7 linked regions of the Homo sapiens genome follow. The protein of the gene in region 7 interacts with the protein of the main gene of each other region in a pairwise test. Each region holds a gene or a part of one and is shown on either strand. Other genes may lie near its edges. The genes, in order: SH3BP5, SRGAP2, EXOC2, CCHCR1, NUP54, TRIO and EXOC1.

Region 1 (4,161 bases), on a different chromosome or scaffold from region 7:
TGCCTGTAGTCCCAGCTACTTGAAAGGCTGAGGCAGGAGAATCACCTGAACCCAGGAGATGAAGGTTGCAGTAAGCCGAGATCACGCCACTGCACTCCATCCTGGGCAGCACAGCAAGACTCCATCTCAAAATATATATGTATATATAGATATCTATATCTAGATATATATTTGAGCAAATTAGTGGTCAGACTAAGAATAAACCAACTTCCCAACAGTGGTTTTCTTTTCCTATTTATCTATTTTGAAAAAGCCTTGTGAGGAAAGATTAAATAGCTAAATTGGCTGTGGCAATGACTGAGAAAGAAAATGGAAAAACAAAAACCAGAAAATTTTGAACTATTTTCTGATTCAACAGCTGTCCACTTTCTTCTCAGGTTCCTCGATCTAAGTAGCCACCTAGACCTCCTCCCGTTCACACCTTGGGGCAGGGGCCTGATGGGCAGGCAAATGGCCAAATAGCAGCAGTGGGAACCTAAGAGATGGGGAACCTAATGGGGAGACCACCAAAACCAAGAACTAGGCATCGTGCCAGGCACGATGGCAGTCAAGCCAGCAAAGCAGCCATGACTTCCATTGTTTGGTCCTTTCCCAAATATTCTGAACTAGTTGGCTGTGCACAGAAGAACTCAGGATCCAGAAAGGGCAAACTTTACATTTAAGCAATTAAATTAAAACCCAGTCATTCACATCAGATTTTGAGGTACACAAACATTTGTGAGCAGAAGACAAGTCAAAGTTCTGGTGGGAAATTCTGGTGGGAACACTTTGTTAAGTCTGTTGAAAAAAATGAGTTACAAAACCAATACTCAAGGGCCCTCAATGGCCAAAAAACAAAAGCAGCTCACAGGCCCAGTCCCAGAGACATGGGCAATGTTAATTCTCTCCTTGCTTACCTACAGAAAAGCATCAGAACAAGGCCTGCCTTGAAGAAAGAGGAGGGAAACAAACCGCAGTTCAGGCCACATAAGCAGCTTGCGATTTCTTTCCCTGTCTTCTGCCTACCACTCAGTGTTATAAAATAAACCGGAGAGACAGTAGAGGTTAGGCTAAAGGGTTATTCTCTAATTCTGTATTCTCTGGGGAGCATCCGAGAGGAGCCCAGAGGGCTCATGGTCACTAGTCAGCTCTCTCAGACCCCGTAGAACAATTTTAGGGAGGTACCACCATGTCTTTAGTTCACAGTTAAAAAAGAAGGCCACAGAGGAAGGTTGCCAATGTTCTACCATCTCCTCCAGTCAACAGCCACAATCAGCCCTAGGATAGTTTACTTATTACTTACGATAAGGATTTTTAAAGGTACCATGAAAAATTATGAAAGACTTTTATATGGGCATTAAAAATTACAGGGTGTCCTGTCTAGGGCACCCTTCCAGGCTATCTCTGACTTTGTCTTGAAGCTGTTTTACAACCCTGTAAGTTGTAGAAAACTGACAGTAATACAAATGGTTTTTTTTTTTTTCCAGAGAAATGAAGATGAACTGTGTCACAGATGCAGTGGATTACTGACTGCCCTTGTAATAGTCCATTTTGCATCTGTTGGTAATTCATTGAGGCACTCTTGGTTTTCTATGAGTTTGTATTTTTTGAATTCAAGAATTGTAACATCACTGTTAGATCCCTCCTTATTTAATGAGAGAAATAAAATATTTGACACGAGAAAATTTTATATTTGTATCCCAATTATGCTTTTACCTTCTTAAAAATATCTTTTAACAAAGGCTTCAGTGCTTCAGATAATTTTTAAAAACAGAAAAACAACAAAATCAGAGAAGAAAAATAGGAGAGAACTGAGCTAAGCTGGCACGAGGAGACATGCTTGCTCACATGACTTCTCAACCAAGACCAAAGGGCTAAGAGAATCCTTTCCCTTTGCTTCCAAAACCAGATATTTCACAAGGAAACAAAATGCACTAAAAATATCTCATGCTTGATACTTGGGGAAACAGCAGTAAATCTTAAGCTTTAAGGATTTACTGGTATAACCTTTATGAAAACTCAAACCTTCAGGTTCATCAAAGACAACATGTTGGGGGTGATTGTTTTATTACAAAAAGATCCAATTAAAGGTTTACCTTTAAGGAGCTGTCAGAATGCATTTTCAACAGACTTGTAGAACCTGTAATTTGAGGGTCCTGTACAGAAAGAGTCCCCTGTAAGAAGCAGGATTCTCACCATCTGCACACAGGCCCTCATTCTATCTTGGCCTCTAGGCTGCAAGCAGAAGCACAGGCTTTCTACAATAAAACACTTGGAAAGCTCCGAGCCCATGGCAATACTGGCAGTGAAAACTGAAGAAGTGGCCAGCACATCACTGTCCCCTGCTTCGCCCCACCAGGCCACGTCTACCACATCCTGTCCCTATCTCCCCACTTCTCATATATATACAAAACCTCCAGGGCAGCCAGGTGCGATGGGGCTCATGCCTGTAATCCCAGCACTTTGGGAGGCCAAGGCGGGCAGATCACTTGAGGTCAGGAGTTCAAGACCAACCTGGCCAACATGGTGAAACCACGTCTCTACTAAAAATACAAAAATTAGCTGGGTGTGGTGGTTGGTGCCTGTAGTCCCAGCTCCTCAGGAGGCTGAGGCAGGAGAAAAGCTTGAACCTGGGAGGTGGAGGTTGCAATGAGCCAAGATCGCGCCGCTGCACTCCAGCCTGAGCTACAGGGCGAGACTCCGTCACACACACACACACACACACACACACACACACACACACACACACACAACCCTCCAGCTCCTGGAAGAGACCTCCACACAACTCAGCTTCCTGCCTTGAGGAAGAAGGTCACTAAGCATGTCGCCTTGGTTATGTCTCCTAGGTAATCAAGGAGCTCCTCTATCTACAGCCTAGCATCAGGCATGAGCTGTGTGCAGTGATGTGGGTCAGGTGTGGTGGGATAAGTAAGGAGGAGAGCGGCTCAGGGGTAGGTGTGGCAAACTGCACCCCATACTCCGGAGCAGCATACTCCGGAGATGCTGAAGATCCAGGGACCACAGAGATACTGCTCAGCCCCGGACCCTGCTCATATCAGCCCACAGAAAATAGCAAACACCCGGCACCTTCCCGCATGGGCACCACTGGGCACTGATTGGGTGTTTCAATCTGGCTTGGCCAGCCTCTTCGCGGGGTCCCACACCAGCAGAATGGCCCAACCGGCTTAGTAGACATCCACCAGGCACAGCTCCTCAGCCTCCTGTTACAGCTTTCTCGACTCTCCAATCTCCAGGGCCTTTGCACCCTCAGTTACACTCCCAACATCTCTTCCAACATCACAGAGGGGCGGTCAGGAGCCTCTTTGCCCAGGGAGGCAATCTCACTGTCTGCTGAGAACCTCCATTCTGACTGTTTCAGACTGTTTCCTGATTCTTACTGCGTCCTTGGGCAATGAGACCTAAGAAGGCGCTTCTTCCCACTGTGTGGAAGGGAGGCGGTTCACACCCACCAACGTCAGGGAGGCTGTCGTGAGCAGCTCCTCACCTGCCATCCCAGGCTCATATCCACTGTGAACCAGGAGAAGGGCTGGCCCTGCGTCGTGTCCTCTCCAGCAGCCACCTGGGGCTAGTTCAGAAACAGTTCGTGCCTCTCATTTCCAAGTCACATTTCCCTCTTCCTCTGTCTGAGCTCTTTCAGCAGACATCAGAAAAGCCAATTTCTCCCTCCCAGGATGCCAGCCCTCCTCTCTCAGAGGATGAAAAGCTATCACCTTCCCATAAAGGCTACTTCAGTGCCAAAACAGCTGAGGCTGAAGGGGTCCTATGCTGCCCAAGCTCCCCAGCTGGAGAGCAGCAGGGACCCCAGGCCCTGTGCCCCAAGGAAGGCTGCTCAACTACAAGGTTGGCAGCTCTGCCACAAGCTACTTGTATTTTCCAGAGTCCTCATCAACCCCAGCACTAAGCAGAAAACTGATCCTTTGTCCCTGTCTGTGCCACTGCATGTGGCCTAACAGAGCACACCAGGGCTGCTGCCACCTCCTAGTATATCGGCTTCAGCCATGGCTCCAAGTGTGGCTGCCTGATGTCACCACAGGAAGTGTGAGGGGCCGCATAGATAATCTTGGGCACGTTACGTGGGAACCCCAGTGTCCCGCTGTGCCTGGAGGGATCGTGTAGTCCAAGCCACTGCCATTTCTTCAAGACAGCCCTGGGCCTTTCTGA
Region 2 (4,161 bases), on a different chromosome or scaffold from region 7:
GCCTATGCTTTCTGTTACCTTTCAGATATAAAATAGGGAAGAGGAAAAGCTTCCAAAAGCTCCTTTTACCGGCCTGGCATTCTGGGGATCTGTCTGTTCTGCTTTATCCAGATCAAACACCCTCTCACAGCAACTGCAATGCCAGTTATCATTTACTGAGCACTTAGTATATTCCTGGCTTTATGCCAAGTACCACACAACACATTTTCTCATTTCATCCTTAGGACAATTCCACAATCTAGACAACAACCCTATGAAGACTGTAAGCCTTCAAAACAATTCAGGTAAGAGTCTGGGAAGGAATAAAATCCATATCAAGTATAACTGGAATTGCCACAGGAGGGAAGTAGTATAAAAGGTGAAGGATGATTTTCCATCAAAGCAACCATCTAGGAGTCCAATCCTTTCTCTTAACAGGGAGGCCAGGAAGCCTAGAACTCAAGCTTGTTTCCAATCCTACTAAACATACTACTTCCAGCCACCTAGTGCCTGCTCTACTCTGTGGGAACTTTCTGTTTCCACACAGGGAGTTCACGAGTGCTGAAAGTGTGATGCCATAAGATTTCTTTGAGATGGAGAATTAGAGAGTAGAAGTTGGGTGTGTGTGTGCATGTGTGTGTGTGTGTGTGTGTGTGTGCATGTGTGTGTGTAACACAGGAGTGCAAAGGTACAATATTATTATTAATATCTACCACTTAATAAACATTGTGTACCATGGGCTTTACGTACATTACCTCATTTAATTCTTACAATAACTCTGTGAAAGACACTGTTATTATTTCTATTTCTAAAGATAAGGAAATAAGGCTCAGAGAGATTAACTATCATACCCAAGGTCATACAATGAGTAAATGGTGGAATCAGGATTCAAACCCAGGTCTGTCAGACTCCAAAGACCACATTCTTAGCCATTAAGCAACACCGACTCTCCTCTGGATAGGACTGGAGCTGAACTGGTTGGGAGGAAAGGTTAAATATGGTCAAGATATTCCTGAAAAGAGAAACTGGTTCCATGTATGAACCTGAGTTAGAGAAGTGTCTCAACCTGGGGCTATTTTGGCCCCCAGGGGAAATGTGGCAGTGTCTGGAAATATTTTTGATTGTCACAACTTGGGGATTGCTACTGGCATCTAGTAGTTAGAGGTCAGGGATGCTGCTGAACATCCCATGCACAGGACAGCCCCCACAACAACTAATTATCTGGCCCAAATGTCAATGGTGCTGACGCTGAGAAAATCTAGCTTAGAAAGACTTTGTGGGTATACTAATCTAGCCCCTACGATCAGCTAGAGGCAGATGAAAGAATAAAGAATACTGGGACACTGACAAAATCAAAGTACATTAGAGTCTAAATTATGTCTCATTTTGAATGCAGAATGTTTTAAATCAGTTTCACCTCATTCTGAACCTAACACTACTTCCCGTAAATTTTACCAGGATAATACTCTTCATATTTTCTATACAGAAGAAAAAATACTTAACAACTAATGGCGTTTAAAAGCCTTTCTAAGTAATTCAAACAGACCCCCAGCTTTCCAGGTTAACTAAGAAGTGGAAAAGAGGCATCTGTTATCTCAGCTGAAGAAGTGTAGATAGGAGGCTCCTCTTTTTTTTCTCTTTTTTCACCTGAATCTGACCATGGGATTCAAAAGCTTAGTGAGAAGTTACAAAAGTGAGTGCTTTTTTTCTTTTTTAAAGTGATTTCCTATTTCATGAAGGTGCATGATAAAGAGAAAACGTTATGAATAAACATGAGATAAAAAAGGGGTCAAAGAATAGCGCTACCAAGTCAACAAATGAAGTAACAAAAATCAACAATTTACAATGTTACTTTCCCCTAAAAAACTTAAAGAACTTTCTTGTTAAAAGAGAGTAAAACGCTACTTTGCCTAAGAAACTATACATTCTTCACGCTAAGCTCTACTTCTTTTGTGTTTTCTTCTCACAGTGGAGAAATATGTCATATACACAATGGTAGTTTTACAAAGTGGTTGCCCAAATGACTGAATGACACTGAATCTCTCTTCTGGGTAAATACTGGAGAAGCTTTATTAGTGCCTTCCAGCTCAAGAGAAAACTGAGGTACCTAGAAGCTGAAGCTTAAATAAGTGATGCCAAAACAATTGAAAAAATAGGAAAGTCAAGACAGGACTTAGAAATGTATATAGATACAGATATACATGTTAAATATATATTTATAAATATATATTTATAGTCAAGATAGGACTTAGAGAAAGCCAAGATAGGACTTAGATATATATATCTATGTACATATACATATGTAAATGTATGTATATCTATATATCTATGTCTTAGACATATAGCTACACATATATGTATATATAGATATGTATACATAAAGATATACATATACATACTTCTATCTATATATAGATAGGCAAATGCAAACTATGGGGAAAAACTGAAAAGTCTAAATTCTCAGTTCTGCAAAGAACATTCCACTTTACTTTGAAAAACTAAACACTGAAGTCACATATTTAGCTCTGCTCCCTCTGACAGCCACACTAAAATAATAGGAAAAAAAAGGTTCTAAAATGATTATCATTTAGGTATAAATTGAGAAAAACAAAAAGAATGGAAGCTGAAGCCGAAAAGCAGGTAGGCAAACAGTAACTCATCTACTTGAGTCCTAAACCAAAACTAGAGTGAGCCAGGAAGCAGCCAGATTTATATCACAGAAGCCCGAAGAGAAATAAGTAGCAGTGGGATGAAGGTAGAGCTAAACACAAAATAAGCTATTGAAAGTCTGAGAACAGGCCGGGCATGGCGGCTCATGCCTGTAATCCCAGCACTTTGGGAGGCCCAGGCGGGCGGATCACGAGGTCAGGAGATTGAGACCATCCTGGCTAACACGATGAAACCCCGCCTCTACTAAAAATACAAAAATAAATTAACTGGGCGTGGTGGCGGGTGCCTGTAGTCCCAGCTACTCGGGAGGCTGAGGCAGGAGAATGGCATGAACCTGGGAGGTGGAGCTTGCAGTGAGCCGAGATCACGCCACTGCACTCCAGCCTGGGCAACAGAGCAAGACTCCATCTCAAAAAAAAAAAAAAAAAAAAAAAAAAAGGAAGTCTGAGAACAGTGAGGCCCCAAGATCCCCCTCCCATTGTAGTGGAAGACTAGATGAGAGGTTTATTCTGTTAGAGAGGGTCCATGGACTAGGGGATACAAGGTTCAGCTGAGGATAGGGGTATACTGAACTTCAACAGGAGGATTAGCTGAAGTCTATGTTAAATTTTGAGATGGTCTAGGCCTCTTCACAACTCAGCTCCCAGACATGAGTGGGAGATCAAAAGTGTGATCTCTCGGCAATCTGACCATCCAAGATAAGAGACCTAGAAATACTAAAGTTGGGGCTTCCACAAGGACACAGCCCAGTTAGAACACCCTACTGTGAAGGCCACAGCTGACATAGAATCTTTTAGTGCCTCACTTTAAAATGTGAATAGGCAGCTAAGAATGACCAGGCATTTAAAGGAAATGTCTAATATGAAAGACCAAGACCAAAACTAGCAATTTAGAAGAAATATTATACAACAAGAAGAAAAGTTTGAAAACAATATATCCATAATAGCCCTGGAGAGATAAATGAGAAATAAAACGATACTGCATCATGAAACAAAAGTTGGATGCAACAAAAAAGGGAACATGTAGAGAACAAGAAAAGAGTTCTTGGCAATAAAGATTCAATTCAAGTATCTCTTCAAGGAGCCTGACTTCATCCCTGTCCTCTGTGCAGACATGTAAATGAGTTCTTGTCACTTCATTTTTCACTTGATGCTTTACTTTTCTGTCTCTCCCTATTAAAACTAAACGCCTTGAGGTCAGAAACATCTCTTATTTGTTCTTGTCTCCCTAGTGCCTAGTGCCAGAGTCAAATAGGCAAGCAGAGTTGAGAGACTATTAAGTGCCATTGTTTCAAGGGAACAGGTGCTAAATACCAGTCTGAAGTAGCTCTGCCAGCACACAGCCGCTGCTCCAAGCCAAGGGGATGTAAATTTAGGGGGAGTACAGAAGCATAAGGCCTCTGGAATAACAACAGCCCCAAAGTGTCCCAAAGCCTCTTTTTTCTCAATTCTAGAGCTTCCTTGACTCTTCATACTCAGCCAATCCACACTGGCTTCAGTGCCTCCATGTACA
Region 3 (4,161 bases), on a different chromosome or scaffold from region 7:
GGTGTGGCTCAACAGTGAACATGGCCCACTAAAAATGGCTGCTGGTGAGCTGTGACCGACGGGAATGAAAGGCTAACTTCATTGGTTAGGAAAAAATGGAAAACGTATTTTCAGTTGCAAAGCTGACAGAATGACAGCAAGCCATGTTATCAGATGCTGGAAATGAGTGAGTAAGCATATTACAGTGTCCTCAAACATTTCATTTGCATACGACTTGGCTTCTCAGGCACATCAACACTATAACCCAGTATTTCCTAGGTAATGTTGCCCACGTAGTAAACAATTTTGCACAGACAAACAGTAGTTCTGCTTCACTTCACCTACTGATATTTCAATGGTAGGAAATCCTGACTTTCATTCAAAACAGCTAAAAATTATCAAATTTCCACTACAAAATTTTGCAGAGAAACCACAAGGCTTCCTCTTATACTGATATTTACAGCACTTGAGCTGTCCTTCAGAGTCTGCTATGAACAGACTAAGACTCAGTTCTTATCCTCTTTTGCTTTAAGAAGTATGTCATACTCTGCTGTATTATAAGACTAAGATTTGTCAGTAGTAAATGAAAAAATTATATTAAACCCCTTTCATTTACATTGTGTTACAAAGTGGCCTTGACATAAACTTTATCACATCACAAATTCATGAGCATGTGCTCTGATCAGTCATCTTTACAGAGGACAGAATTGACTAGTAAGACAACCTTTATTTTTAATAGAGCACTCAACTAAAGAACACTGCCACTTACTTGCTTTCGGGTGTCAGGTAAACAGCCACAGTGTCCCTCAAAGCACAGATTTCAAGTCTCGCCTGAAAATGAGAAAAAGACAAAGTGACAACAGGAAAATTTATATTATCAAATATAAACAAGTACTAAGGTTAAGGGTCTCCAGCCTGCTCATCGTAGGATGGGGTTGGCGTAATACCACCATGGTGACCGCCAGTCATGAGTAGAGTTTCTAAAACAGTCCGAAGAAATTTGCTACCACAAAATGTTCGTTGACTGAAAATTAACTTGTAGTCAAGGATGACTGTGTGAGGGCAGGGAACTAGATATCTCACTATGAAAAGTACAAACTGTGTCATGATTTTCCAGCCATCTGTATTTACTCTCTAACCACTAATTTTTCTTTTAGTCTTGCAAGAGGAAAGACACTTTGAAACACTGCCCTGAAAGGGCCCGTGTCCCACAGAGGTAAGGATGTGGCTTGGCATGCTTCCTGACACCTATGCCCTTGCAGGCACACTGCCTTAATCTCAAAACCTAAACTCTGCTCTATGGATTCAATGCAATCTCTATTAAAATCACAGCTGCTTTTTTTTTCCTTAATGGAAACTGGCAAGCTGATTGTAAAATTCATAAGGAAATGCAAGGCACTCAGAACAGCCAAAACAATCTTAGAGTAACACATTTAGAGGCCTCAGACTTTCTGACTTCAGCCATACTCCAAAGCTAAAATATATTTAAATATTGTATACCCTCATATTTATGATCAACTGCTATTCAACAAGGGTGCCAAGACCACTCAGTGGGGGAAGAACAGTCTGTTCAACAAATGGTGCTAGGGCAACTGGATATCCACATGCAGAAGAATGAAGTTGAATCCTTTCCTTAACACAAAAATTAACACGGATCACAGATCTAAATGTAAGAAACTTATGAAACTATCAGAAGAAACCCAGTGTAAATCTTTGTGACCTTAGGCTAGGAAACCCTTCTTAGAAATCATGCCGAAAGTATAAACAACAAAACAGATAAAGTGGACTTCACCAAAATTAAAAATCCAGTGCTACAAAGACACCATCCAGAATGTGAAAGGACGACCCACAGAATGAGGTATCACTTCACACCCACTAGGATGGCTATAATCAATAAGAGACAATAACAAATAATGGTGAGGATGTAGAGACATTGGAACCCTCAAAAATTGCTGGTAGGAATGTCTGCCACTTTGGAGAACCGTCTGGCAGTTCCTCAGAAGATTAAGTATAGAGTAACCACATGACCTAGCAATTCCGCTCCTTGGTATGCACGCACGAGACATGAAAACACATGTCCACACAAGAACTTGTATAGGAGTGTTCACAGAAGCATTCTGCATATTAATCAAAGGTGGGAAAACCACAAATGCCCATCAGCTGATGAATGGATAAATAAAATGTGGCATATTTAAAGTGGAATATTATATGTAAAAAGAAGCGAGGCACTGGCATATGTCACAACATGGATGAACCCTGAAACATTACGCTACATGAAAGAAGCCAGTCACAAAGGGTCATATTTTCATGTTTCCATTTATACGAAATTTTCAGAGTAGACAAATCATAGAGATAGAAAGCCAATTGGTAGTTGTCTGTAGGGGGAAAGGGTGGTTTGGGAGGCAAATGATTAGACTTAATGGGTCAGGGGTTTCTTTTGGGATGAAATGTTCTAAAATTGATGATGGTGATGACTGGACAGCTCTTTGAATATACCAAAAATCATTGAATTGCATATTCTTTTTCTATTGTAGACAGATCGTATGCTATGTGAAATATTTCATAAAAGTTTTAAGAAAAAAGTTAAGCTTTCACTTCTACGCAAGCATGAATAAGTGTGATCTGACATACAAGTCAGTTTCCTGGGAGCTCCAGCAGACCCACTGACAATGATAACTTGATGTTCTGAAGTAGGTGCCCACAGTGAGTGGGACACACAGGAGAACATTTAAAAGAAATATCCCTTATTCTCAAGGAGTGGACAAAACATAAAACAATGACAAAAGACACAGCCAGCTCTTCACAGTTTATTAGAAATTCTGTAAGCCATCTAGATCAAAGCAGATATATATGACACAGGATATTCAGTGACCTTTTTCTGTTTGGAAGGCAATTGTTTGGTTTCATTTTTTCAGTCCCTTAGAAGCCTGAAAAACAGTATATAACTAGAAAGTTACAAATGCTAGAAAGTATGACAATTTCTGTCTCTATTTTGTTTATATTCTAGTATAGGTAAAAACAGACCTACCAGGAAAAAAGGTAGAACTTTCAGCTGACCATTTTAGGAGAAAGATTAAATTACTACAAAACCAATCTTCTGGTAGAAATTTTATTCAATCAAGGTGATAGAGTGTTTTAATTAACCTGTAAGTTATGCCAATTATAAAAACTGTGGTTAGCTATATAATACCTACAAAACTGTAATCCAGAAAACATCATGCTAAAAGATCTGCCAAAATCACCAAACTGTCACTCCCCTTTTCACCAAGCTCTCAGGACAGTTCTGGAGTTTGGCACCTAATTGCCTATCAAAGGTTAACCTGCTATCCCTCTTAGAGCTATGGCCTCAAGGAAGGAAGCTCTCAAAGTCATTCTCAGTGGGAGAGTGAAGCGGGAGTTTAGACTCACGACCTTTTTCAAAATACACATGTCTGTCCAGGCCCGAGGAGGTCTCAAAAACTGGAGGCTGGAACAGTTTGATGGCCAGTAGTTTCTGGACATGTGTACGTGAAAAAATTTTCCAGCTAATTCTGAGATCACTTTCCAACCTCTCCCTGCTGGTTTTGAGAGTGGTTTAGCCATCAGATAAATGGATTACGGAGGTAATGTGTAGAGAGGGCGGATGCCTGTTAAAATTCTAAGACTGCTAAGGCCCACAGTAGCGACTGCGACTGCCTGTTAATTCATCTGTAGTATTACACAGTTTATACTACTCATCTCCTGTGATGGAACTATTATAATAACCATGACCTTTCAACTTAAACGATAATATCAAAGATCTGATACATCAATTTTCAGAGAAAACTGGTGGCAAATGGAAACACAGCAGAAGCTTTTGCAACAGATTCTCCCCTAACCAAATTAACAAGTGCTCTCTGCTCTTTTTCTTTCCCAAATATGTATTTTGAAAAAATTTCAAATGTATGGAGGCTCTGAAAGAACTTTACAGTGAATGCCTGTTTACTCACAGGCTCTCCCAGTAACACAGCCTCACATGACCACATGGCTTCCATCCGTCACTCAGTCCTGTAGTTCTGATCCACTTCAGTGTGCATATCATTAACTACAGTGGACTATTTGCACCCGTTTTTTTTTTTTTATAGTTAGAATGTACATACTACACAACAGACAAATCTCGAAGTGTGGCATTTGATGAGTTTTGACTGATGTATACACCTGTGA
Region 4 (4,161 bases), on a different chromosome or scaffold from region 7:
CAAGTTAAGTATATAATAAGCAAGTAAGTATATAGCTTTAAATAAATAGACTAGGCCAGGTGCAGTGGCTCACACCTATAATTCCAGCACTTTGGGAGGCTGAGGTGGGTGGATCACCTGAGGTCAGGAGTTCAAGACCAGCCTGGCCAACATGGTGAAACCCCGTCCCTACTAAAAATGCAAAAATTAGCCGGGTGTAGTGGAGGACACTGGTGGAGGATGCCTGTAATCCAGCTACTCGGGAGGCTGAGGCAGGAGAATCACTTGAACCAGGGAGGTGAGGTTGCAGTGAGCCAAGATTGCGCCATTGCACTCCAGCCTGGGTGACAGAGCGAGACTTTGTCTCAAAATAAATAAATAAATAGACTAAATTTTTCTCCAGTGAAACGGATTGCCCGTAAAATTTTAGAAAAAAAAAGGAAGATGAAGTGTCTACACTCTCCATCCTTGAACAATACTGCAAGTAAAGATCCTCCCGGGTGCTCTATTTAGCTCAAGCCATTACTAGACTGAACTGCAGGAGGAAGCAAGGCCTCACCTCCAGCCAAACATGCAACGGGAAATTCATAACAAGCAATCAGGTATGAATGCAGAAGGGGCTTCCCCAGGAAAAGAAACGAACACAGGAACATTGATAGAGCTAAATCTGCCCAGCCCTGTAGCCTCCAGTGGCCACTTTCCAGCCCCTCTTGCCTGAGGATCCTCAGCAACAAGGTGCCCAGGAACCTGAGGTGGCAGAAACACTACTCCACCCACCCCTCCATCCCTGATACCTGCTGACAGCATTGACCACAAGCCTCAGCTGCTCCTCGGCTGAGGCTGTCTGCTGCTGCCACCGACGCCTGGCCTCCTGAGCACGGCTCAGCTCCAACTGCAGGCCCTGGGGAGGATGCAGCAAAGGACAGGGTCCCTCCCTAAGTCCTGGCTGCAGCCCCGGAACAGGGGCTCCCTTGCCCTCCCCGAGTCTCTAGTAGGCTGACACCAACCTTGGCACCCATACGCTCCACCTCCACCTCTGCGGCTTTGTCCTGCAGGGATCGCTGCAGGATGGCCTGCTCCTGGCTCTGGGATGTCACTTTTTCCTGGAGTGAGGCCACCTGGGGGAGGAGAGAGAGCTAGGCAGGGCCCTCTAGAGCTAAAAGATGAGGGGGGCACTGGAAGCAAAGTGGCAGGTGCAGAGATCTCTGTAAGAATGCCATGCAGGGGCTGGGGGGAGGGGGGGCGGGCGACGGGGGTGGGTTGCAGCACGGTGGCTCACACCTGTAATCCCAGCACTTTGGGAGGCCGAGGCAGATGGATCACTTGAGGTCAGGGGTTCAAGATCAGCCTGACCAACATGGTGAAAGCCTGTCTCTACTAAAAATACAAAAATTAGCTGAGCGTGATGGCATGTGCCTGTAATCCCAGCTACTCGGGAGGCTGAGGCAGGAGAATCACTTGAACCTGGGAGGCGGAGGTTGCAGTGAGCTGAGATCAGGCCACTGCACTCCAGCCTGGTGACAAGAACAAGACTCCTTCTCAAAAAAAAAAAAAAAAAAAAAAGAAAAGAAAAAGAATGAATGCCACGCAGGGAGACAGAAGCTTAGGTTCTGAGGATGGAATCTGAGCCCAGTGTTCCATGTTCCACATTCCATGTGCCCACTCAAAGATGGGAATAGCCCTTGACCCACCCCACAAGACCCACCAACTGACCATGCCACTCTCCTCAGATGCTGTCACCTCCTCAGAGAGGCTGTCTCTGAGCATCCTACCTGAGGCTGACTCACCCCACAGTCTCTCCGTCACATTATCTTTTGAATTTTTCTTACTACTTTCTTTTTTTTTGAGAAAAGATCTCGCTTTGTCACCCAGGCTAGAGTGCAGTGATGGGATCACAGTTCACTGTGGCCTCGCCTCGACCTCCCAGCCTCAGGTGATCCTCCCACCTCATCCTCCAGAGTAGCTGGGACTACAGGAATGAGCCACTATGACCGGCTAATTTTTTGTATTTTTAGTAGAGACGGGATTTCACATGTTGCCCAGGCTGGTCTCGAACTCCTGACCTCCAGTGATCCACCTGCCTCGGTCTCCCAAACTGTTGGCATTACTTGACTGGGCACGGTGGCTCACACCTGTAATCCCATCACTTTGGGAGGCTGAGGCAGGTGAATCACCTGAGGTCAGGAGTTCAAGACCAAAGTGATCGCATTATAGGTGTGAGCCACTGCACCTGGCTTCAATCTTTCTATCGCACATATAATTACCCAACATTATCTGTTTACTTGCGTGTTCTGTGTCTCTGTTCTAGAATGCAAGCTCCACATTTTAGTTTTGTTCAGGGCTGTGTGCCCAGCATGTGGCAACCACTCAATAAACACTGGTTGAATGGATGCCACCTTCATGGAAGGAGCAAGGTGCTGGGAGGGAATACCGGGAGAAAAGAGAGTGCAGTGACCTGTCCCTTCAGCTGCTTAACAGAGTCACTGTGTTCCAGCTCCTGGGCCTTTAGCTGCACCATGAGGGCAAACACCTTCTCCCGCCAGCGGTTCAGCAGGGACTGGCACTTCCTGGTAAACTCAGGCTCCAGGGAATCTGAAGGTTGAACCTGAGGGAGAAGGAGTGGGAGAAAAGTGTGGGCTCCTGGGGGAGGAGAGGAAGGAGGTGGCATCTTTGTTTCTCCTCTGTCCTGCCTGGGCAACATGAGCTACAGCAAGAGGAGTTCACAGGAAGGAGATCTAAGCAGGTTCTGGGGCACATTGACCCCTCCTGCCCACAGGGAGGGAGGCAGGGGACAGTAGATGCAGGATGCGGCTGAGGGTGAGGGGTCTGGGGGTTGGGCTGTACCTTCCTGGTCAGCTCCTCCTCCTGCAGGGCGAGGATGTGTGTGAGGCTCTGCACCCGCACCTGCAGCAGCTCCGCGGTGGCATGCAGGCTGTCCCGGTCCTCCTGCAAGTGCTGCGGGCAGAGGAAAGCAGCCCCTCTGTAGGGCCTCCATGCCGCCTTAGGTACCACCTTCTCTCCCGGAGGCTGTGCTCTACACGCTCCTCCAAGGGCCACGCTTGCCTCCCAACCTGATCCCTAAGTCTGCACACAGATACATTCCTGCACCCTCACCTGCATGGTTTCCAGAAGCTTCTGTCGCTCCAGTTCCCATGTCTGGCTGTGGACCTCAGAAGGCACTTGTTCCCCAACATATTTTCTTAGATTCTCAACCAGGGTCACCTGAGCCTCCAAGTCTTCCTGGGTCTTGCTAGGGTTGGGGTGGGAATGGGACAGCCATCAGTGGGGCGCCCTGCAGATCCACCACATCACTAATTGCTGGGCTCCCGTCGGCGTCCGCCCACCTACCTCAGCTGCTTCCGAAGCAGCTCGGCCTCCCTCTGAGCCTCGGCCAGCTCCTTGGCTTCCCCTGCTCTTCTGGTTTCCAGACTACTCAGAGACTTCTCCAAGCCCTCAGCCTTGCTGGTCAAACTGGAAAGAGCCTCCTCGTGAGCCTGTGTCAAAGAGGACAGCTGCGGAAAGAAGAGGGGGCTCAGCAGAGGCTCGACCCCACATGGAGGCCTTCCTTGTTCCCTTCACTCCCACTTTCTGTGACCTTAGAGAATGACCCAACCAATCAGCCAACTGTGCACAGCAAATGGAGAGCTGGCAACTCACTCTCCGCAGCTGCCCCACAACCCATCAGGAGTTCTTGTCCGATCTCCCCCAAAACATATCTTCACCTCTCTGTCTCCGTCTCCACTGCCACCAACCCTCATCTTTTGCCTGGGCAACAGCGACCATCTCCTAACTAGTCTTTACAAACCCTCAGTGGCTTCTCACAGCATTCACAACAAAACCCAGGTGTCTCTCCACACCTGCAGGCCAGGGGACCCGGCCTCTGCCTACCTCCTGAGCTCACCCTGGAGGCTCTCCCACTGCTCCCCGCTCCGGCCACGGGGAGTCTGCTGAGAACCAGACAGCGGCCCCTCCTTGCTCCACAGACCCCAGGCGATAGCCCCTCCTCAGGGTGGCTTCACTGGGCCCTCTAATACCGTCCCTCCCCACCCTACTCTGCCCCATCAGCTGTTCACGTCCTCCTGAGCACTTAGCACTGACCATATCTTGCTTATGTGTATGTGTTACTATCTGTCGGACCACACTGGAAGGAAAGCTCCAGGAAAGGAGGAATTTTGTGTCTTT
Region 5 (4,161 bases), about 20 Mb from region 7:
TTTATTCAACCTCCCTATTTTACAAATGAGGAAATACAGTTCAGTCAAAACATTACATTATTAAATGAAAACGCAAATAGAATTTTCCGCTCCTAGTTAGTTCTCACTATGCTATGCTGCCTTACCATAATCTTTTTTTTTCTTATTTTTTTCTTTTTGTTTTGGCTGAAGCTTTAGCTGGACAATAATCAATATTTTTTAAAGGCCAGGAAAATGAAAATAAACTTGTCTCATATGTAAGAATTATAATTAATAGCTCCCATGTTTGCTTTCCTAGTAGCAAATATTAGTTCTTAAATGAAACAAGATGAAGACATACTTACTTTTCAGAATCAGGGTTATCTACCTTGGCCTGTTCCCAGATAATAGGATCAACACCTACCACAAATAAAAAATATTTTTTCTAAAACAATTTTCTATTTTTATAATATGTGTATGACAAAGGCTTTCCTAAAGCAAGACCCTATACCTAGAAGCTATAATGAAAAGTGACTGTCAAATATAATCATGGTAAAAATACAAATTTTTGCAGAATAAATAAAGTTCAAAAAAAGCACAGATTGAAAGGAACTATCTATAACCTATAGGATAATAGATTAACCTCCAGAATATAGAAAGAGTTCCTATACATCAAAAAGGAAGACAAAAAAATCTAGAAAATGGGCAAAGGACACAAATAGGTAACTCACAAAAAATATAAATGTAGCTAATAAACATATTAAAAATAAGTATTAATTTTTAAATTAATTATTTTGCCATCAGTGGCCAGAAAAAATAACATTCCTGTTATGAATATAAACGGTAGAACTTTCCCTGGAGGGCAATTTGGCAATATCTAACATACATAATATTGACTCAAAAATTTCATTACCAGAGATCTATTCTAAAGAAATATATACCAATGTGTTCTAAGACATGTTTACAAGGATATTGTTAATTACTGTACAGTTTATAATAGTAAAAAGAAAACAACTTAGAGGTGTTAAGTAAAGGTGTATCCATGGAATACTATGCAATGTTTAAATACAGTAAGATTTATCTTCATGTATTGACATGAAAAGTGCTAAGGAATACTGTAAAAAGGCAAGCTGAAGGTGTATATGGAGAATCCTTTTTTAAAAGATCTACATGTAAATATGCTTACATTTCAAATCACAGATAAAGGATTAAACATAGTACCATAAATTGACAGTAGTTACTTCCGGGGAAAGGAACTAAAGGTAATCTATCACATAGTCAATCTAGTTATGCCATCCAGAATATTTTACAGTTAGAATACATTCAGGTTTTACTTGAATATTCAGTTAAAATGAGATAAGCTAGAAAAAAATAAGCCAAAATTTTACTAGTAAATTACCTTTGGGTAGATGGATTATGGACTATTTTTCTTCAGTTCACTATTTCTCAAAATTTCTATTTTAACATATACATATTAGCTATATAATAAAAAACTAAATGAATACAAATATTCAAAACTATTTCCCAAATAAGTAGATATATGACAAGATGATACTAATTTTATTAGCATTAATAACCAACCAACACCTCTGAAATACGGGGAGTGTTTAGTTCTAAATCTTTCTTTTTTTTTGAACTCTGTGATTCTAGAAACATACCAGCAGGAGGATTCTGTAAAAGCTGTTTGATCTGTGCAGGAGAAAGTTCTGTTCTAGTCATAGAAAGGGTTACACCAAGTTGCTGCAATTGTGTTTTTATATTGGCTTGTTCAAAATGGGCATATAGCGTTGTAGCTGGAACTCTTCTTGAAGTACCATTTGGCGAACGCTCAACAACATAAATAACAACTTCTGTCCTGAAGGAAGAATAACCAATTTATAAAATATGGAGCACAAAACTCATAGCGACAAACCTCAGCATATCATAGCATGTGATTTCAGAAGGGTTTAAGTTGAATTCAGAAATGGTTGTTTTAGGAGGCAATTAAAATGTTTCCTTTTTTTTTTTTTTTGAGCAAGGTTTGCTCTGTTGCCCAGGCTGGAGTGCAGTGGTATCATCACTGCAGCCTCAATGTCCCAGGCTTAAGCAATTCTCCCACCTCAGCCTCCAAGTAACTGAGAGTACAGCTGCACACCCGCTACGTTTAGCTTACATGTATGTGTGTCTATACATAAATATATATGATATATATATATATATATTTTTAAATTTTTTTGAGAGACGGACACTCGCTATGTTGCCTAGGCTAGTCTCAAACTCCTGGTCTCAAGCAATCCTCCCACCTTGACCTCCCAAAGTTCTGGGATTACAGGTATGATGAGCTGCTGTGCCCAACTGTTTTCTTCTTAAATCTTGGAAAATAAGAAAGTTTTACTTCATGTAATGTTCATTTACAAATCAACCTAAATGATAAAGTTAAAAAGAACCAGGTAAATAAGATAGTATTTGTTTTTTTTTTTGAGACGGAGTCTCTCTCTGTCCCTCAGGCTGGAGTTCAGTGGCTCAATCTTGGCTCACTGCAAGCTCCGCCTCCTGGGTTCATGCCACTCTCCTGCCTCAGCCTCCCTCGTAGCTGGGACTACAGGCACCTGCCACCACGCCCGGCTGATTTTTTTTGTATTTTTAGTAGAGACAGGGTTTCACCGTGTCAGCCAGGATGGCCTCGATCTCCTGACCTCATGATCCGCCCGTCTCGGCCTCCCAAAGTGCTGGGATTACAGGCGTGAGCCACCGTGCCCGGCCAATAAGATAATATTTATAAAAGGGTTTGCTTAGTTGCAAAATCCTATGTAAATGTTATTTACTATAGGAAATTCTGTTGAAATTTATGGGCTGCTTCTCTGCAATTACAACCACAAGTAAAATCTGTTCAATTATTGCATCTCATTAATAATCATTCCTCCAAATATCCTAAAATAAATGTCTTGCCACTAACACTGAGAATTATACTTAGGTCAAGGGAAGTAAAGCAATAATATTTATTCATGAATGAACATGAACAGTAATGAGTTAATAACATTTTCCAATAACATCTTTATGGCCCTCAATTTGCACGCATCTATGACAAATGGTCCCTTCCTGGCCTGAATGAAAATCTAGAAAATTATTAGCATCTAGTAAGTTAAAAAATCCAAAATTTTAAAAAAACTTTTAAATAAATGTTTTTATCAATACTGAATAATCACTAGCTGAGAAAAGGCATTCTGCTCTGAGAGTTAATTTGTGCTTTAGCAACAAAAACATTATTGATCACTCCCTTAGGACCAGAAATAAATACACAGAAATAAACAGTATATTTATGTATACTTACTGATCATCTGGCAATGTTTTAGTGCCCTCTACATTTACAGTAAGGGTCTGGTTTCCTCCCAAAACTTTATGCAATGATTCTACCAACTGTTGTTGTTGGCTTCGAATCTCTGTTTCTTTTTTGTTGAAAACTAAAACCACTAGCCCATCTTCATCTTTATTACTGGGCATGCAACTATAACCTACTGCCTGTGGAATGACAAAATAAACAATATAAAAAATATGTACAGATCTTAAATCAGGTGTTTAATATTAATAGCTTAATATCTGCTAAAATGGGAAAAACAACTTAATGTCTGGTAATTAAGGGAATAATGATTCTTCCCACCATTTTGTGCCCTAGGAGGTCACAAAATTATAAAGAAAAACTATTTTACCCAGGAATAACATTAACCTATAGAGTAAGATTAACATTTCCTCTTTGAGAGAGTAACTAAACAGCTTTCTCCCCTAAAAAATTTTGATATTCATTATTGTTGGTTGTTTCTGAACCATCTGCATGTCATTATAAAAGTGACTGCAAAAATCACCAACTAATTATAATTTATTTCACTATACAGATTCTCAACTTATGATTTTTCCATTTTATAGGGTGTGAAAGCAATACGCATTCATATATACATACATGTAAACCATACATGGAATTCTGATCTTTTAGTTTTTATTATAAAATTATTATTATTATAAGATGGACTTGATGTTAGATTATTCTGCCCAATTGTACACTAATGTAAGTGTTCTGAGCATGTTTAAAGTAGGCTAGGCTAGGCTATGATGCTTGGTAGGTTAGGTGTATTAAATGCATTTCTGAATTACAATATTTTCAATTATGATGGGTTTATTGGGATGTAACCCATAATAAGTTGAGGAGTATCTGTATATCTGATTCATGGA
Region 6 (3,500 bases), on a different chromosome or scaffold from region 7:
GCTCCTGTTGCTGTCTCTGTCAGCTGTCTGTGGCTGCATAAAAAGTCACACCAGCACATGCTGTCTTAGGACAGTGGTGACATGTGCCTTCTTCCAGTGCAGTGGGCAGATGGGACCATTATTCTGTTGGCCTCTCCTGGCCTGGTCAGCTGGTGCACCATGCCCCATGCGTGTCAGAGGCGTTGTCTGGGACACTGGCCTCTTTCCACATCGACTTTCACCCTGGGCTCCCCCACGTGAGGGCAGTGGCATCCCAGAACAGCAGGAGCAGGAGCGTCAAGGCCTCTGAAGGCCCAGCCTCAGAACGACCAACGTCCTCCACATCCTGTGGGCCAGAGCCAGCCCCAGGCAGCCCTGATTCAAGGGGACGAATAGCCCCCGCCTCCGAGTGACAGAAGTAGCAAAACCGTGGCCTTTAACCACACAGTCTGCCCGCCACAGGCGCATCTCTGGTCCTCACATGTGCAGAATGCACTCACCCACCTCAGGCCCCCAGCCCAGGCCCCCACCTGAGGTCCAAGGCCTCGTCCAGATCGCGTTGAGTTGTGGCCAGTCCCCAGGAGTGGGTCATCAGGGGCAGCTCCAGGGTCCTCGTGCCTGCCCCACACACCCCCACAGGGGCGAGGCTGAGGCAGTGACCACAGCAGACGCACCTTTCAAACGTGCAGGGAAAGGTGGCTGACGGGAGGCGTGAGCAGCCATCCCAGCTTCTGCTCGTCGTGGGAAGCAGAAGGGAGTCGCCCGGCAAGGCCAAGGCTCAGAGGTCTTCCTCTGTCACTTCCACCACACGCAGTGCTGGGAAAGCAGCCACCGACGTGAGGAGACCAAGGCTGCCTGGGAGGAAGGACCAGCAGAACCGCGTGGCTGCGGGGACAAGGGCAGATTTGGGGGACAGCCATGGCACCACAGCCCCTCCGTGGAGTGGCCGGGAGAGCAGGGCCTCTGGACAGGGCTGGGCCACCACACAGCCAGTCCATTTAGGATAACAGAGTCTTTCTCGGTGCCAGACCTCAGCAGCCTCTGCAAATGGTCCCCCTGACATATTTTACAGGGGCAGATTCTCTGTCGTTAAGAAATGTGATCAGAAAGGAACCAAGCGAGCAGTGGCCACTAAGTTTGTGAACAAGAAGTTGATGAAGCGCGACCAGGTCACCCATGAGCTTGGCATCCTGCAGAGCCTCCAGCACCCCCTGCTTGTCGGCCTCCTCGACACCTTTGAGACCCCCACCAGCTACATCCTGGTCTTAGAAATGTGCGTACACACCTGGCCTTCCCTCTGCCCAGCCCTCTGCCTCCACCTCAGGGGGTTTTGTTGTTCCTGTTTGTTCTCTAAGAAGGATAGAAATTGGGTTTGTAGAATTTACAGAACTAAAAAACATCTTCACTGTCAGAGCCCGCAGTTTTCAAGCCTTCCAGTAATGGCAGAAAGCAGTGTGGTCTTCCACAGGGCGGTTGCCTGATGAAGGGCAGTCACTGCTGGGATGGAACACCTGATATGCTCAGCCAACCCGGAGATGCACCCCCCCCACCCCTTTTCTGAAGGTCCCATGAGGCCAGGCTGTCTCTGGTGCTGAACCCAAGCCCCCATTAGTGGTTGGAGGCTGACCTGATACCCCAAGCCTGTGCAGGGCCAGCTCACCCCGGATCAGCGGGGTGCCCCTCAGGCCTCCTGCCAAGTGAAGGCCAGTTGGATGGGAGGGTAAGACGCACCTCCCCGCAGAATGTCCTCCGAAGAGGGGGCGCGGGCACACCAACCAGAGCTGCCCCTCTGGTCCCCGTTGTACTTACTGGGCTCCTGTGTAAGATCAGAAAATAATTTAGTCACGTCAAGAAAAGAGTTTGAAACCTGTGTCCCACAGGAGCGGTTCTCATCTAGGGGTGGGTTCTCGTGGAAATGTCAGGAGAGCTCAGGCTGGGGGTGAGTCCGGCAGGGAGCGGCCGGAGGCCAGGGATGCCACCCAACCTCCTGCAAGGCAGGGACAACCCCCATGGATTCATCCACCCCAAACATCTGTGCATTTAGCTTTGAAAAATGTCGATTCCTCCTTTTTAGGGGGAGTCATTTTATACATTTACTTGCATTTACAGCTGCTTTTCCATGGGGAAGGGTAAAACCTTTTGTCACCATTTGGGAAGTTTGCATAGCTTCTTCAGTGGGAAGGATAGGATTAGCAGGGCGCCCCCATGGGGTCATGTAGGGGCAGACTCAAGCTCGGGGCCCCTCGCCGGCAGGAACTCCCTCCAGGCCCTGTACCTGATGTTGTAGTTATTGTCATTTTTTTCTTAAAGAAACTATAAATGCCTCCCCATACCCTTCCTAGGGCAAGGCTGCCACAGCGTCCCACATGGCCCCACATGCAGCCTTACCAGCTTCCTCGGGCCGCCCATGTGCCATGGGTGACAGTGGGTGTCTCAGGAAGGCCTCCCACCCATGGCTGCACAGCTAGAACCTCCCCCAGCACATGGGGACGTGCTTCCAGCCCGTCTTTCAAGAATAGAAAACACATCTCATGGCAGAAGGGCAGACGGTGGGGCGCAGTGAGGCTGAGCAGTGTGTATGGAGAGGAGGTCCACTGGCCTCGCCTGGCCTCAGTCCCCGCCCTCCCTCTCATCGGCTCATTTCTCACCCTGGTGTCCTTAAAAGTCACACTGGCTTTGGAGGGTTGTCGTGGGGCCGAGATGGGGCGATGTGTGTGGAAGAGCCGAGCCGACATCCAAGCCGAGGCCTGGCCTGGGAGCCTCAGGACCCGGGAGGTCTCCTTTCTGGCTCCAGACGCTGGTGACCAATGGCCACTGCTCACCTTCCCTGGGGAGTTTTAACAAAACTGTGGCTTGAGTGCTTGTCACAAATCTCCTAAAGGCCTTCGTTTCTGGACTGACATTTCAGTGCTTTCAGCTGTCATTTCTGGGAAACAAAATGGTTTGGCCTCACCATCCTGTTAATAGGATCCGTTTTCATGACAGATTACTCCTGTTCTCACCGGCGACTCCCCATTGCTAGACAGGCAGCTGATCTTCCTACAGATTTCTGTTTTGCAAAGAGAGCAGCATAGGCCGGTGTTGAGAGAGGTGGGGGCCAGACCACCTCAGTCCAATCCTGGCTTCTCCACTCTGGAGCTGTGGGACCTTGGGAACGTTTCATGCTTTCTCTGTCCTGAGTTTCCTCGTGTATCAAATGGGTACACTAAGGCCCACTTCACAGAGAGTCATAAGGATTAAATGAGTTGTTAGAAGGCATTGAGCCCCTGGCACTTGGCAGTGCTGGGTAAGTGTTTTTTTAGTATGAACAGTAGTTTCAGAGGAGGAAGTCTTCTGAGTCCAACACTGAGCACTCAGTGTGTCACCTCCTGCCCAGCCTGTGGTTACATGATCTCGGTGAGTCTTCCCGTGGCCCATTCTACAGGTGAGGAAACTACAGCTCCGAGAAGCATGAGCTACTTGCCTTCCTTCAGCAGATACCGCAGGATGCCTGCTGCACCTGGCACTGCCGGCAGCCGGGC
Region 7 (4,161 bases):
CATGCAATCTGCCTTTTGTAGAAATCTCCCTTATCGGATTTCTTGACTTTGACCACCTTAACCTGCACAGGGCGTTCAGTTGTCACTGTTGAGTAAAACGCACACTTTTATTAGAAATATTACCCCTTTCACTCATTCTTCATTCACTCATTGCAAGTATAGCTTTCAGGTGCCTAGTAGCTGATACTAAAAGAGGTGTAATACTTTGCAACAAGTGCTATGACCGAGGAAAGCACAGAATCCTAATAGAAGCATCTAAGTCAGACTAGAAGATCAGAGGAGATTCCTTGAAAAATAAAGGAATGATATATTAATAATAAATTCAGACCAGTTTTAAAGAAAAGTATGAGGTAAAAATCTAAAGAATGATTGACATAAGTAAAGTCTGTGAGGCTTGAAAGAGCAAAATACCATTTCAAAGAGCAACAATACATTTATATATAAAGTTCTTACTATGTTGCCCAGGCTGGTCTTAATTAAACTCCTGGGCTCCAGCGATCTGCCCACCTCAGCTTCCCTAAGTGCTGGAATTACAGGCATGAGCCACTGCTCCTGGCCTAAGAATTTCTTTATAGCAATGCAAGAATGGCCTAATACAAATACATTACGATTGAGTGAGGTCATTCTAAAAAGTCAATTTATCATTTCAAAAACCAAGTACAATTATATACTACACTAACAAGGAAGAAAATTTTATGATATCAATGATATGAAAAAGCAGTTGATAAAATTCAACTCCCATTCATGATTTTTTAAAAAAGTGTAAGAAACCAGGAATAGAAGGGAACTTACTTAACACTGTAAAGTATAGCTATAAAAACCCTATACCAAATACCATGCTTGAAAATGAAGTCATTCTCCTTGAGATGGAGACTGTATTGATAGTCCTAACTAGGAAACTAAACCAACAAAAATAAAAGATATAAAAACTATAAAGGAAGGAAGAAAAATATCACTACTTTCAAAAAGTCTACATATAATTAGAATTAATAAGAAAGTTTGGCAAGATTGATAGACATCCATATAAAACACCAACAATTCATTGTAGAATTCTAACAATATATGATTTTAAAATGTATTAATGTTAATAAGCGCTTTCACGACTATCAAATAAAATCTAAGAATAAACCAATACTCAGGAGTAAATCCAAGAATATACATGACAAACCTTTAGAGAAAATGATGAAACTTATAAAGTTAAAAAACACCTAGATAAATAGAGAACTGTACCATGTTCATGGACACAAAGATTCAATACAATAAAAATGCAAGTTCTCTCCAAATTGAACTATAGGTTCAAAACAATTCCAATCAAAATCCCAACAAAGTCTGAAACTCGACAAGTTGTTTCTAAAATTTAGGTGGAATAAAGAACAAAAACAAAATAAAAATAACATATAAGATGACAACCAGAAATGCTCACACACACCATGACAGATGTCAACACAGGTGAACTAAGACTAAACTGTAAAAGGCAAAATTATAAAACTTTTGAATTTAGGAAAATATTTTTATGACTGCACAAAAGATACAGGGAAGGATCTTTTAAGACACCAAAAGGGAAAGCCATAAAGGATTAATTAATTTCATTTAGTTTAAATTATAAATTTCATTAACAGGCATCATAAAAAGTGAAAAGACAAGCCACTAACTGGGATGCATACAACCAACAAAAGGTTGATAACCAGATTATAGAAAGAACTTGTACAAATCAGTAAAAGGACAAGCAACACAACAGAAAAATGAGTAAAAGGCTTAAACAGGTAAATTTCATACACAACAGAATGAAATGACTAAGAAATTCATGAGAAGATGCTCAATCTCATCATTATAGGGAAATATAATTTAAAACCACAATGAGATACTATTTCACTGCCACCAGATTGACAACAATTAACAGCCTGTCAAAGCCAAGTGTTAACTAGGAATGTGTTGACCCAACAATTTTTCCAATTACAGAGACAATGAGGATATTCAAAACAAAGAGGAAATATCTTCTAAATAATAAAAGGATACAAAACAAGTACTCTTTCTTACTAAATACCCACCTGTGGCACATAAAAAACAGTTCTTTTTCTTTTTTCCTGCTTTGCAGACATTCACAATGCTCAGCAGGCGTTCATCATTTGGTGTAAAAATGTCTCTTTGTAATGCATGCTTGATTGCTGTCATCTTTTCTCAGCTGAAAAATGTGGAGTATAGATATTAAGCTCACCCTCAACATCATTCCATCTTATACTTCTGAATTTATGATTTGAAAATAATTTTTGGTTAACAAGCCTAGGAAAAATGATTTAATATATGAATACACCTATATCACAAAAATACAAAGCTGTAAGTTTGGAAATAAAATTAGAGAACCAGTGTTATCAAACTCTAAAATGTTTGGAAATGCTCACCAAGTATACACACACACACAAGATTTAAGAAAAAAATCTTCAACCCACTGCTCAAACTTTTAATATAGTTTTCTACATAAAGAACCCTTACAACAATAAGAAGACAAATAACCCCATTAAAAACTGAATAAAAGACCTGAACAGACATTTTTCCAAAGATATACAAATGGCCAATAAGCATATGAAAACATGCTTAACATCACTGGCCACTAGGGAAATGCAAATCAAAACCACAATGAGGTATCAACCACTTTACACCCATGAGGGTGGTTAAAATAAAAACGATAGAAAATAACAAGTGTTGGTGTAACAAGTGTTGGTGAAGATGAGAGGAAACAGAACTCTCATACATTGCTGGTGGGATTGTAAAATGGTGCAGCCACTTTGGAAAACAGCTTGGTGACTCCTCATAAAGTGAAACATGGGCTACCTTATAATCCAACAATTCCACTCCAGGAGAACTGAAAACATATGTCCACACAAAAATTTGTACATGAATGTTCATGGTAGCACTATTTGCAATAGCCAAAAAATGGAAATAACAGAAATGTCCATCAAATGATACATAAGCAAAATGTGGTATATCCATACAATGGATTATTATTCGGCTGCAAAAAAAACAAAGGGCCGGGCACGGGCGGTGGCTCACGCTTGTAATCCCAGCTCTTTGGGAGGCCGAGGCGGGCGGATCAAGAGGTCAGGAGATCGAGACCACGGTGAAACCCCGTCTCTACTAAAAATACAAAAAAATTAGCCGGGCATGGTGGTGGGTGCCTGTAGTCCCAGCTACTGGGAGAGGCTGAGGCAGGAGAATGGCATGAACTCGGGAGGCGGAGCTTGCAGTGAGCCGAGACTGCGCCACTGCACTACAGCCTGGGAGACAGAGCCAGACTCTGTCTCCAAAAAAAAAAAAAAAAAAAAAAAAAAAGAAAAAAAGGAAATGAAGTAATGAAACATGCTAAAATATTGATGAATCTTGAAAAGATTATGCTAAGTGAAAGGAGTCAGCCACAAAAGACCACGTATTGTATGATTCCATTTATATGAAATATCCAGAGTAGGAAAATCCATAGATACAGAAATATAAGTGGTTTTCGGGAGCTGGAAGGGAAGGTGGAAACGAGGATTGACTGTTAATGGGTATGGAGTTTCTTTTTTGGGGTGATGACAATGTCTTTCAACTAGATAGTAATGATGGTTATACAACCTTGTGAATATGCCAAAAATCACTCAATTATACAATTGAAAAGGGTAAATTTTATGATACATAATCTCAATAAAACTGTTATAAAAATAGGTTTCCACTTATCTCCTTTTTCTTATCTAACTCAGCATCTTTTCAAACATCAACTTAAAATAATTTTAAATCTCTATTTTATTTTTCATATACATATTTGTGTGGATATGTATTACAATTTTTCAATGCAAATGTGTAGTATTTCATACATGTGAGCTTGCCTAGGACACTAACTTCTAAAACACTATTTCTTTCTATGGGAAAATGAAGAAATCATGATTTTTAAATAAATGATTTACAACGTATTTTTATAGCACAATGACTATTTTGTAAAACAAGTCTTTCCAATATTTTACTCAATCTGTAAAACTTCTATCTCTGCTCCAATTCCAAAAATTGCTTTTCTCATAAAATTCACATCTTCCCACTTCCACTTCATCTCAGCCTCTAGTCTTCTGACATTGCCCTTCTTTCTGTTCTCTTAATCTGGCCTCTCCAAGTTTACTTCTTTTCCAACCTAGCCTG

What was found.
Region 1: the proteins of EXOC1 (region 7) and SH3BP5 interact in a two-hybrid assay, tested with the Homo sapiens proteins (2 studies listed by BioGRID and IntAct).
Region 2: the proteins of EXOC1 (region 7) and SRGAP2 interact in a two-hybrid assay, tested with the Homo sapiens proteins (2 studies listed by BioGRID and IntAct).
Region 3: the proteins of EXOC1 (region 7) and EXOC2 interact in binary tests that used the Homo sapiens proteins (3 or more experiments, as listed by UniProt).
Region 4: the proteins of EXOC1 (region 7) and CCHCR1 interact in binary tests that used the Homo sapiens proteins (3 or more experiments, as listed by UniProt).
Region 5: the proteins of EXOC1 (region 7) and NUP54 interact in binary tests that used the Homo sapiens proteins (3 or more experiments, as listed by UniProt).
Region 6: the proteins of EXOC1 (region 7) and TRIO interact in a two-hybrid assay, tested with the Homo sapiens proteins (2 studies listed by BioGRID and IntAct).

The regions. Positions count from the first base shown.
Region 1 is NC_000003.12:15,262,830-15,266,990, forward strand, and holds part of SH3BP5 (SH3 domain-binding protein 5), read right to left. Parts: intron 1,670-4,161; exon of another isoform or gene 1,467-1,669; intron 1-1,466. UniProt on the Homo sapiens protein: Functions as a guanine nucleotide exchange factor (GEF) with specificity for RAB11A and RAB25. Inhibits the auto- and transphosphorylation activity of BTK. Plays a negative regulatory role in BTK-related cytoplasmic signaling in B-cells.
Region 2 is NC_000001.11:206,388,092-206,392,252, reverse strand, and holds part of SRGAP2 (SLIT-ROBO Rho GTPase-activating protein 2), read right to left. Parts: intron 1-4,161. UniProt on the Homo sapiens protein: Postsynaptic RAC1 GTPase activating protein (GAP) that plays a key role in neuronal morphogenesis and migration mainly during development of the cerebral cortex. Regulates excitatory and inhibitory synapse maturation and density in cortical pyramidal neurons.
Region 3 is NC_000006.12:490,377-494,537, forward strand, and holds part of EXOC2 (exocyst complex component 2), read right to left. Parts: intron 811-4,161; coding exon 749-810; intron 1-748. UniProt on the Homo sapiens protein: Component of the exocyst complex involved in the docking of exocytic vesicles with fusion sites on the plasma membrane.
Region 4 is NC_000006.12:31,147,632-31,151,792, forward strand, and holds part of CCHCR1 (coiled-coil alpha-helical rod protein 1), read right to left. Parts: intron 3,492-4,161; coding exon 3,328-3,491; intron 3,230-3,327; coding exon 3,094-3,229; intron 2,935-3,093; coding exon 2,824-2,934; intron 2,585-2,823; coding exon 2,435-2,584; intron 1,098-2,434; coding exon 987-1,097; intron 881-986; coding exon 774-880; intron 1-773. UniProt on the Homo sapiens protein: May be a regulator of keratinocyte proliferation or differentiation.
Region 5 is NC_000004.12:76,130,907-76,135,067, forward strand, and holds part of NUP54 (nucleoporin p54), read right to left. Parts: intron 3,457-4,161; coding exon 3,269-3,456; intron 1,814-3,268; coding exon 1,617-1,813; intron 379-1,616; coding exon 324-378; intron 1-323. UniProt on the Homo sapiens protein: Component of the nuclear pore complex, a complex required for the trafficking across the nuclear membrane.
Region 6 is NC_000005.10:14,503,342-14,506,841, forward strand, and holds part of TRIO (triple functional domain protein), read left to right. Parts: intron 1-1,051; coding exon 1,052-1,252; intron 1,253-3,500. UniProt on the Homo sapiens protein: Guanine nucleotide exchange factor (GEF) for RHOA and RAC1 GTPases. Involved in coordinating actin remodeling, which is necessary for cell migration and growth. Plays a key role in the regulation of neurite outgrowth and lamellipodia formation.
Region 7 is NC_000004.12:55,856,335-55,860,495, reverse strand, and holds part of EXOC1 (exocyst complex component 1), read right to left. Parts: intron 2,183-4,161; 5' UTR 2,173-2,182; coding exon 2,049-2,172; intron 86-2,048; coding exon 1-85.